Homo sapiens: one gene and its partner. The protein of the gene in region 2 purifies or fractionates together with the protein of the main gene of each other region. This does not show direct contact. Each region holds a gene or a part of one and is shown on either strand. Other genes may lie near its edges.

Region 1 (3,650 bases), on a different chromosome or scaffold from region 2:
GATGACCAGTGTTTAGCACATGACAAATATCCTACCTTGAAGGACACTCCTTTAAGGATTAAGGGTCTTCATTTTGGTATGAGATGAGCCTGGAAAAATATACCAGGAGACATTCTGTGTAGATACAGGAATTACATGGTAATTGATAAATTGAAAGGACAAAAAAGTTGAAACTTGGTTATATCTGGCCAACTTGTACCCCATGACTTCTCTTTATAATTCCTTAGTCTGTCCTGACAATGAAAACAATTTGCTGCCAACATCCATTTTAGGAAATGATGAATAGCATTCTGTGCCAATCCCAGTCATTTAGTGGCAGCTGTCTCTGTATGTAACATTGAAGGAATCTGAGGTTACTTGGGGGTTCAAATGGACCACACAGGCATCACTAGATACAGATATCCTAAAAGTTACACTAAACTTTGGAATAGAGATGACTTAAATAATTACTTTCTTTTGTGTATGTGCCATATTCCATTTAAATGCTTTGCATTTGTTAATTTATTTAATGTTTACCAAAAAAACTATAAGGTAGATAATGGCATGCAAAGTTTGGCCAAGGCAGTTCAGCTGATAAGTGGCAAGTGGATGTTACATTGCCTTTTAGTAGGTTGACAACTAGGAGTTTGCAGTCAGATTGCTGATTCTTACTTGTGCCATTCATGAATAGACATCACAAGTAGGTATGGCTTTAACTACATAGTGGAAAGCATTCACTACTTAGTGGATATATAATAGTTATTGATAATACACATGAGTCTTAGAATTAACCACTTTTTCCTATGTAGGCAGAAAGTGAAACTCTTCACTGCTCACAACAATATGACCAACTATGCTACCGTATGGGCATCAAAAACAAACCTTGAGCAACGGAAAGGGCGAGCTGGCCGAGTACGGCCTGGATTCTGCTTTCACCTGTGCAGCCGAGCTCGTTTTGAGAGGTAAGACCCATTCTTGACCTTTAGTAAGGGATTTTTGTTCTGTTCTCTGTAGGGACAGATGTGTGCAGTTATGTAAACCTGCCAATATAAGCTGATCTAAGTCTTGCCAGCCATGTTGGAATCAGGTGTAAATGTTTCGTAAGAATCTTCATCACAAATCATTTAGAGAATAAGCCAGATTTAGAAATATAGAGACCTAGATTTTAATATTATTTGTGCCTAATACATTGTATAACACTAAGTGGTTACTCCTTAGGCCTGCATTTCCCTCATTCTATAAAATATTAAGTTACTTAACCTCTCTTGTTTCCTCAGTTGTAAAAAGAATATAAATAATGCCTAACCCATAGGGTTGGTATAAGTATTAAATGATTTAATAATGTAAAATACTTTGAACAGTGTATGGCACATCATGATCTCCCAATAAGTGTTTGCTGTTGTTAATTTATACAGGTCAGATATCTCTTTTAAAACTGAAATGCTTGGGACCAGAAGTGGTTTTGGATTTTTTTTCTTGGTAATATTTGCATTGTATTTACCAGTCGGGCATCCCTAATCTGAAAATATGAAATCCAAAACGCTCTAATGAGCATTTCCTTTAAGTGTCATGTCAGAAGTCAAAAAGTTTTGGATTTTAAAGATACATCTATAAGAGCCTTTCTAGTGGCACTAAAATTACATGAACTAGGAAGGTGGGAGGTTGTAGAGAAATGTTAGTATGAGTTATCATCCTACAAAAAGTCTTGTTGTCGTTTTTAACCCATGTTTGTCAACAGGCAAGGCCTGAAGAGACCATGGGTGGAGCTAATAACATTCGCGATTTTGGATAATTTTTTCATTTTTCTTCTCAGCCTAAAAGGCTATCAAGCTGTGAGGATAAGTCAGAAACCACTATGCAACCAGATTAAATTTTGTCAACAGTGTGTATAGTGAACGATAAAAGGTCCGATGGTAATTGTAAAATAAAAGGATGAGGAAAAGGCAGCTCTGTATCCCTGATTACCTTGCTGCAAAAAGTTTATTAACATCTGTGTATACACAAGGAGGATGGTTATTTTATGCTTATTTTCTCTTAGACTTGAAACCCACATGACACCAGAGATGTTCCGAACACCATTGCATGAAATTGCTCTTAGCATAAAACTTCTGCGTCTAGGAGGAATTGGCCAATTTCTGGCCAAAGCAATTGAACCTCCCCCTTTGGATGCTGTGATTGAAGCAGAACACACTCTTAGAGGTACTTACAAATACAAACCTACTTGACGCAGATATTAATCATACCATCTGTCTTGTTCTGGCAGATAACACTTACAAATGAATCAAGATGATGAAGATGTAGTCAACAGGGCTGTGATAATAATAGTAAGGCCTCCAGTCTTACCTTAGATAGTTAGTATAGTCACTGTTCTAATGAGCAATGAGAAGGAAGAAAGGGACAATGTGAGTCTTTAAAAAAGAAAAGAAAACTTAAAAAGGCATCTCTTAACTATGTACTAAAGATCAGAACATAACTTACTCATGATACCCACAGTATTTCATATGAATCTCTTACAACTTTTTTTGTTTTTTTGAGACGGAATCTCGCTCCATTGCCCAGGCTGGAGTGCAGTGGCGTGATCTCAGCTCACTGCAACCCCCACCTCCCAGGTTCAAGCCATTCTTCTGCCTCAGCCTCCCGAGTAGCTGAGACTACAGGCATACACCACCACACCCGGCTAATTTTTATATTTTACTAAGACAGGGTTTCACCATGTTGGCCAGGCTCTTCTGAAACTCCCGACCTCAAGTGATCCACTCACCTCAGCCTCCCAAAGTGCTGGGATTACAGGCAGGAGCCACTGTGTCCAGCCTGGAACATTTATTTTTTCTTGCTAAACTTGTTAGAGGTACAGTGAAAATTAAGGGCATTGGAGCTAGATCTGAATTTGAATTTTGAATCTAGCATTTATCTACTATGTAACTTCAGAATTTTCTCTAGATTTTATTTTTTTTAAAACATTAACAGCTGGGTATCAGACTTCTTATGGCATGTAGAAACTTACGCTGCTATTATAGTTAATACTGTATTTATAGACTTCATATGAATTGTATTTGTTTTTATAACCTACAGGATTTAGTTGTAGTACCTTTATGTTGGGTGCTCCAGATTTTGATTTTGTTCTATTTTTGAGTACAGAGAATTGTTGGCCGTAGACATGGTATTAGCGATTGGCTTGACAAAAGAGGAACTCTAAACTGTCTTAACCTTAATTTAGAGTAATGTTTTGTCTGCCTAAAATTAGTGTTCATTTGTTTCTGCTCACAAAGAACTATCTCCCCACAGAGCTTGATGCATTAGATGCCAATGATGAGTTGACTCCTTTGGGACGAATCCTGGCTAAACTCCCCATTGAGCCTCGTTTTGGCAAAATGATGATAATGGGGTGTATTTTCTAGTAAGTGCTTTGTTTTATTTCTCTTCGTTAAGTGGCAGAATAATTTCAGAATCTTCTCCTCCCTGTAAAAGCAGTATTGGCTCAGATAGACAAAAAAAAAATCCTAAATGTTCTTCAGGGAAGTAACATACCTAGATATTGAGAGCAGTGTAACACTAAAAAAATGAACAGTTCCAGTAGGTGGATATCTGGGCCCAATATGGGGAAAAGGGCACTGATTTCTCAAAAGTTAAAAGCAAGCAGGCCAGGCAATGTGGCTCACACCTTGAATCCT
Region 2 (3,750 bases):
TGGTGAAACCCTGCCTCCACTAAAAAGTACAAAAACTAGGCCAGGCACGGTGGTTCATGGCTGTAATCCCAGCACTTTGGGAGGCCAAGGTGAGCGGATAGCCTGAGGTCAGGAGTTCAAGACCAGCCTGACCAACATGACAAAAACCCATCTCTACTAAAAATACAAAAAAAAAAAATTAGCCAGGAGTGGTGGTTCACGCCTGTAATCCCAGCTACTCAGGAGGCTGAGGCAGGAGAATCACTTCACCCTGGGAGGTGGAGGTTGCCAGTGAGCCGAGATCGCACCACTGCACTCCAGCCTGAGTGACAGAGTGAGACTCCGTCTCAAAATAAGTAGGTAAACAAATAGAAATACAAAGATTAGCCAGGTGTGGTGGCACAAGCCTGTAGTCCCAACTACTCAGGAGGCTGAGGTAAGAGAATTACCTGAACCCGGGAGGCAGAGGTTGCAGTGAGCAGAGAGTGCACTACTGCACTCCAGTCTGGGGAACAAAGCAAGACTCCATCCAAAAAAAAAAAAAAGCTAGGGACGGTGGCTCATGCCTGTAATCCCAGCTCCCAGCACGTTGGAGGCCAAGGCGGGCAGATCACCTGAGATTAGGAGTTAGAGACCAGCCAGGCGAAACCCCACCTCTACAAAAAAGTACAAAAATTAGCTGGGTGTGGTGGCAAGCGCCTGTAATCCCAGCTACTCCGGAGTCTAAGGCACGAGAATCGCTTGAACCTGGGAGACAGAGGTGGCAGTGAGCCAAAATCGCGTCACTGCACTCCAGCCTGGGTGACAGAGCAAGACTCCGTCTTAAAAAAAAATAAAATAAAATAGTGTCCAGACACTGTTGTCAAATGTCTGCTGGGAGTCAAAATTGCCCCCATTGAGAATTACTGCAAGACAATACACATCACAACAGACAATAAACCAGCAAACGCCAAAGTCAGGGATCCTCCTCCACTGTGTTCCCTGCTGTCTTCCCAAAGCCTGGTACAGCATGTTGGGAATGGCAGCCACACAGTATTCGTTGGCTGAACGAGTGACTCACCTTCCTTAGGACTTTCATGGCATATATTTTGCCCAAGTTGGTGCCTTGCACCTTTCGCACCTGGAACACCTGTAGGGCAGGGGAGACAGGATCAACTTCCCTCTCCACATCCTATCTTCAAGAAGCCCCACCCTGAAGCTCTGGCTTTGGGATCAGGAGGCCTAGGCCCTGCCAAGGGTGGGGCAGTGAAGATTTCAAGTCCGATTGGAGAGGATTTGGCCTTCCCTCCTTTATGTTTCTGGCTCTGAATCCCATTAGAGGCCCTGCTGATTCACAAGTCTAATTTGTTTTGAGAACCCTTTGCTGCCTCCAGATGGAGGCTGTGAGGCCAGGAGGAGGGTGCGCCCGCCCCTACCTTGCCATAGCCCCCCTTGCCCAGCACACGCAGCAGCTCAAAGCAGTGGGGCCCGATGCGCTCTGGGCCAACGTTCACGCTGGTCTCAGTCAGCTCCACCTCTTCATAGTGTCCCACAGGCCTACGGACACAAGGAGTTAATGAGGACAAGGCTCCAGTGCTCCCCAGTTCCCCTTCCCCACTCCATTCCCCCCTCCCCCAACACGACCCTCACTCACTCTAGGCCAGCTGCCCTCAACTCGGCAAGGGGACATGCGTCCTGTGAGAAACCGAGGGGTAAGAGCCAAGGAAGGTGCCAGGATACCTCCCCGCTCCCGTTCAGGTTGGACTGCGTGGCCCAGGAGAGAAGGGTGTCAGGGATGGCAGCTAGTAGGGGATGGGTAAGAATTGGGAAGAAACCGAAGGCAGGAAAGGGAGAATCGGGAGAAAAGGCTGGGGTTCTGGAAGAGAGGTCGGGGTGAGGGTGGGATCAGAACTTAATAGAGACCGGGATCTGAGAAGGATCTGGGTCTGCAAAGAGTCGGAGCCCGCTCTGGGCGTGCGGAGCCGCCGCTCCGGCCTCGGCTGGGTGACAGGATCGGCTCCAGGATCCAGTCGCGCCAGGGCAGGGCACTCACCGCGGGGCTGAGCTCTGGCTCGCCCTCGCCCTCGCTGCCTTCCTCCGTCTCCAAATCCAAATCAAACACGGCCGCCATGGCGGCGCCGGCCCCGCGGGCCCGTCGGCCCGTACCTGGCCGCGCACTGACTGACAGTCCCGGACCTAAACATCATCTCTCCGCGACGGCAGCTGCGCGCGCCGGTGACGCAAGGGATCTTACTCCCCCTCCGGAAAATCGCTTAGCCTGGTGGGGAACAAAGATGGCTTCCGTCGCAAGGCCTCTCGGGAATTGTAGTCCTAGAGTGGCGAGGCGCCTAGCCTTCAGCCTGCAGAATCCTTTCCGCAGGACCCTCGGTCTTCCCAGCAAGGCTTTCTGGGAGCCCGTTTTGGTTCTACGGTGTTTTGAGTTTGGATGGAGCAGGGTCGGAAGTGTATGCAGGTGTGAATGTAAATGCAATCCCCAGCCCTGTTGGAGACGGGTACTGCCAGGCCGGCTGCGTGATGAAAGGCAGGTCGCGTTGCTTTCGGTTCACTCCAGAAAGGGAGGCGGCTGCATCAGGGTCTCCTCAAAGTGCCTCTGGCTCGAGGACCCTGCAAATCGGAGCATTTACTGAGTGGCCAGCTCACTGCCAGGCTATGTTGCCAGGTTCCCGCCTTAAATAGGGTTTTGGGGGTCAGTGATAGACCTGTAAATATGGGATTTTGTTGGCGTTTACTCCCTTCTTAATTTAAGCACATTTAGGCACCTGGTACAGAATAGACACTTCAAAAAACGTTGTTGAGGCCGGACACGATGCCTCACGCCTGTAATCGTAGCACTTTGGGAAGCCAAGTTGGGAGGATCACTTGAGGCCAGGAGTTCAAGGTTACAGTGAGCTATGATGGTGCCACTGCACTCCAGGCTGGGTGACACAGTGAGATCCTGTCTCAAAAAAACAAACAGGCCGGAGGCGGTGGCTCACACCTGTAATCTCAACACTTTCGGAGGCCGAGGTGGGTGGATCACTTGAGGTCAGAAGTTGGAGACCAGCCTGGCCAACATGATGAAACTCTGCCTCTACTATAAATACAAAAAATTAGACGGGTGTGGTGGCGCGCACCTGTACTCCCAGATACTCGGGAGGTTGAGGCAGGAGAATCGCTTGAACTCGGGCGATAGAGGTTGCAGTGAGCCAAGATTGCACCACTGCGCTCCAGGCTGGGCGGCAGAGTGAGACCAAGTCTCAAACAGATAAAACCCGAAAACCTGGCTGGTCACGGTGGCTCACACCTGTAATCCCAGCACTTTGGGAGGCCGAGCCAGGCGGATCACCTGAGGTCGGGAGTTCAGGACCAGCCTGACCAACATGGAGAAACCCCGTCTCTACTAAAAACACAAAATTAGCTGGGCATGGTGGTGCATGCTTGTAATCCCAGCTACTCGGGAAGGCTGAGGCAGGCGAATCACTTGAACCTGGGAAGCGGAGGTTGCGGTGAGCCAAGATCATGCCATTGTACTCCAGCCTGGGCAACAAGAGCGAGACTCCATCTTAAAAAAAAAAAAAAAAAAAAAAAAAAAAAAAAAAAAAACTTTATGGTTTTTTTTTCTTTGTTTTGTTTAGTTTTTCAGACAGGATCTTACTCTGTCACCCAGGCTGGAGTACAGTGGCAAGATCGTGGCTCATTGCAGCCTTGACTTCTTGGGTTCCAGTGATTCTCCCACCTCAAATCCCAAGTAACTGGAATGACATAATCACATAATCTTTTTTCTTTTCTTTC

What was found. The genes of interacting proteins can lie anywhere in the genome.
Region 1: the proteins of RPS6KB2 (region 2) and DHX9 purify together in Homo sapiens (affinity purification with mass spectrometry, with the first as the bait; 2 studies listed by BioGRID). This does not show direct contact.

Annotation. Positions count from the first base shown.
Region 1 is NC_000001.11:182,877,233-182,880,882, forward strand, and holds part of DHX9 (ATP-dependent RNA helicase A), read left to right. Parts: intron 1-788; coding exon 789-941; intron 942-2,017; coding exon 2,018-2,178; intron 2,179-3,264; coding exon 3,265-3,376; intron 3,377-3,650. UniProt on the Homo sapiens protein: Multifunctional ATP-dependent nucleic acid helicase that unwinds DNA and RNA in a 3' to 5' direction and that plays important roles in many processes, such as DNA replication, transcriptional activation, post-transcriptional RNA regulation, mRNA translation and RNA-mediated gene silencing.
Region 2 is NC_000011.10:67,426,885-67,430,634, reverse strand, and holds the start of RPS6KB2 (ribosomal protein S6 kinase beta-2), read right to left. Parts: upstream 2,142-3,750; 5' UTR 2,090-2,141; coding exon 2,012-2,089; intron 1,654-2,011; coding exon 1,613-1,653; intron 1,516-1,612; coding exon 1,395-1,515; intron 1,109-1,394; coding exon 1,040-1,108; intron 1-1,039. UniProt on the Homo sapiens protein: Phosphorylates specifically ribosomal protein S6. Seems to act downstream of mTOR signaling in response to growth factors and nutrients to promote cell proliferation, cell growth and cell cycle progression in an alternative pathway regulated by MEAK7.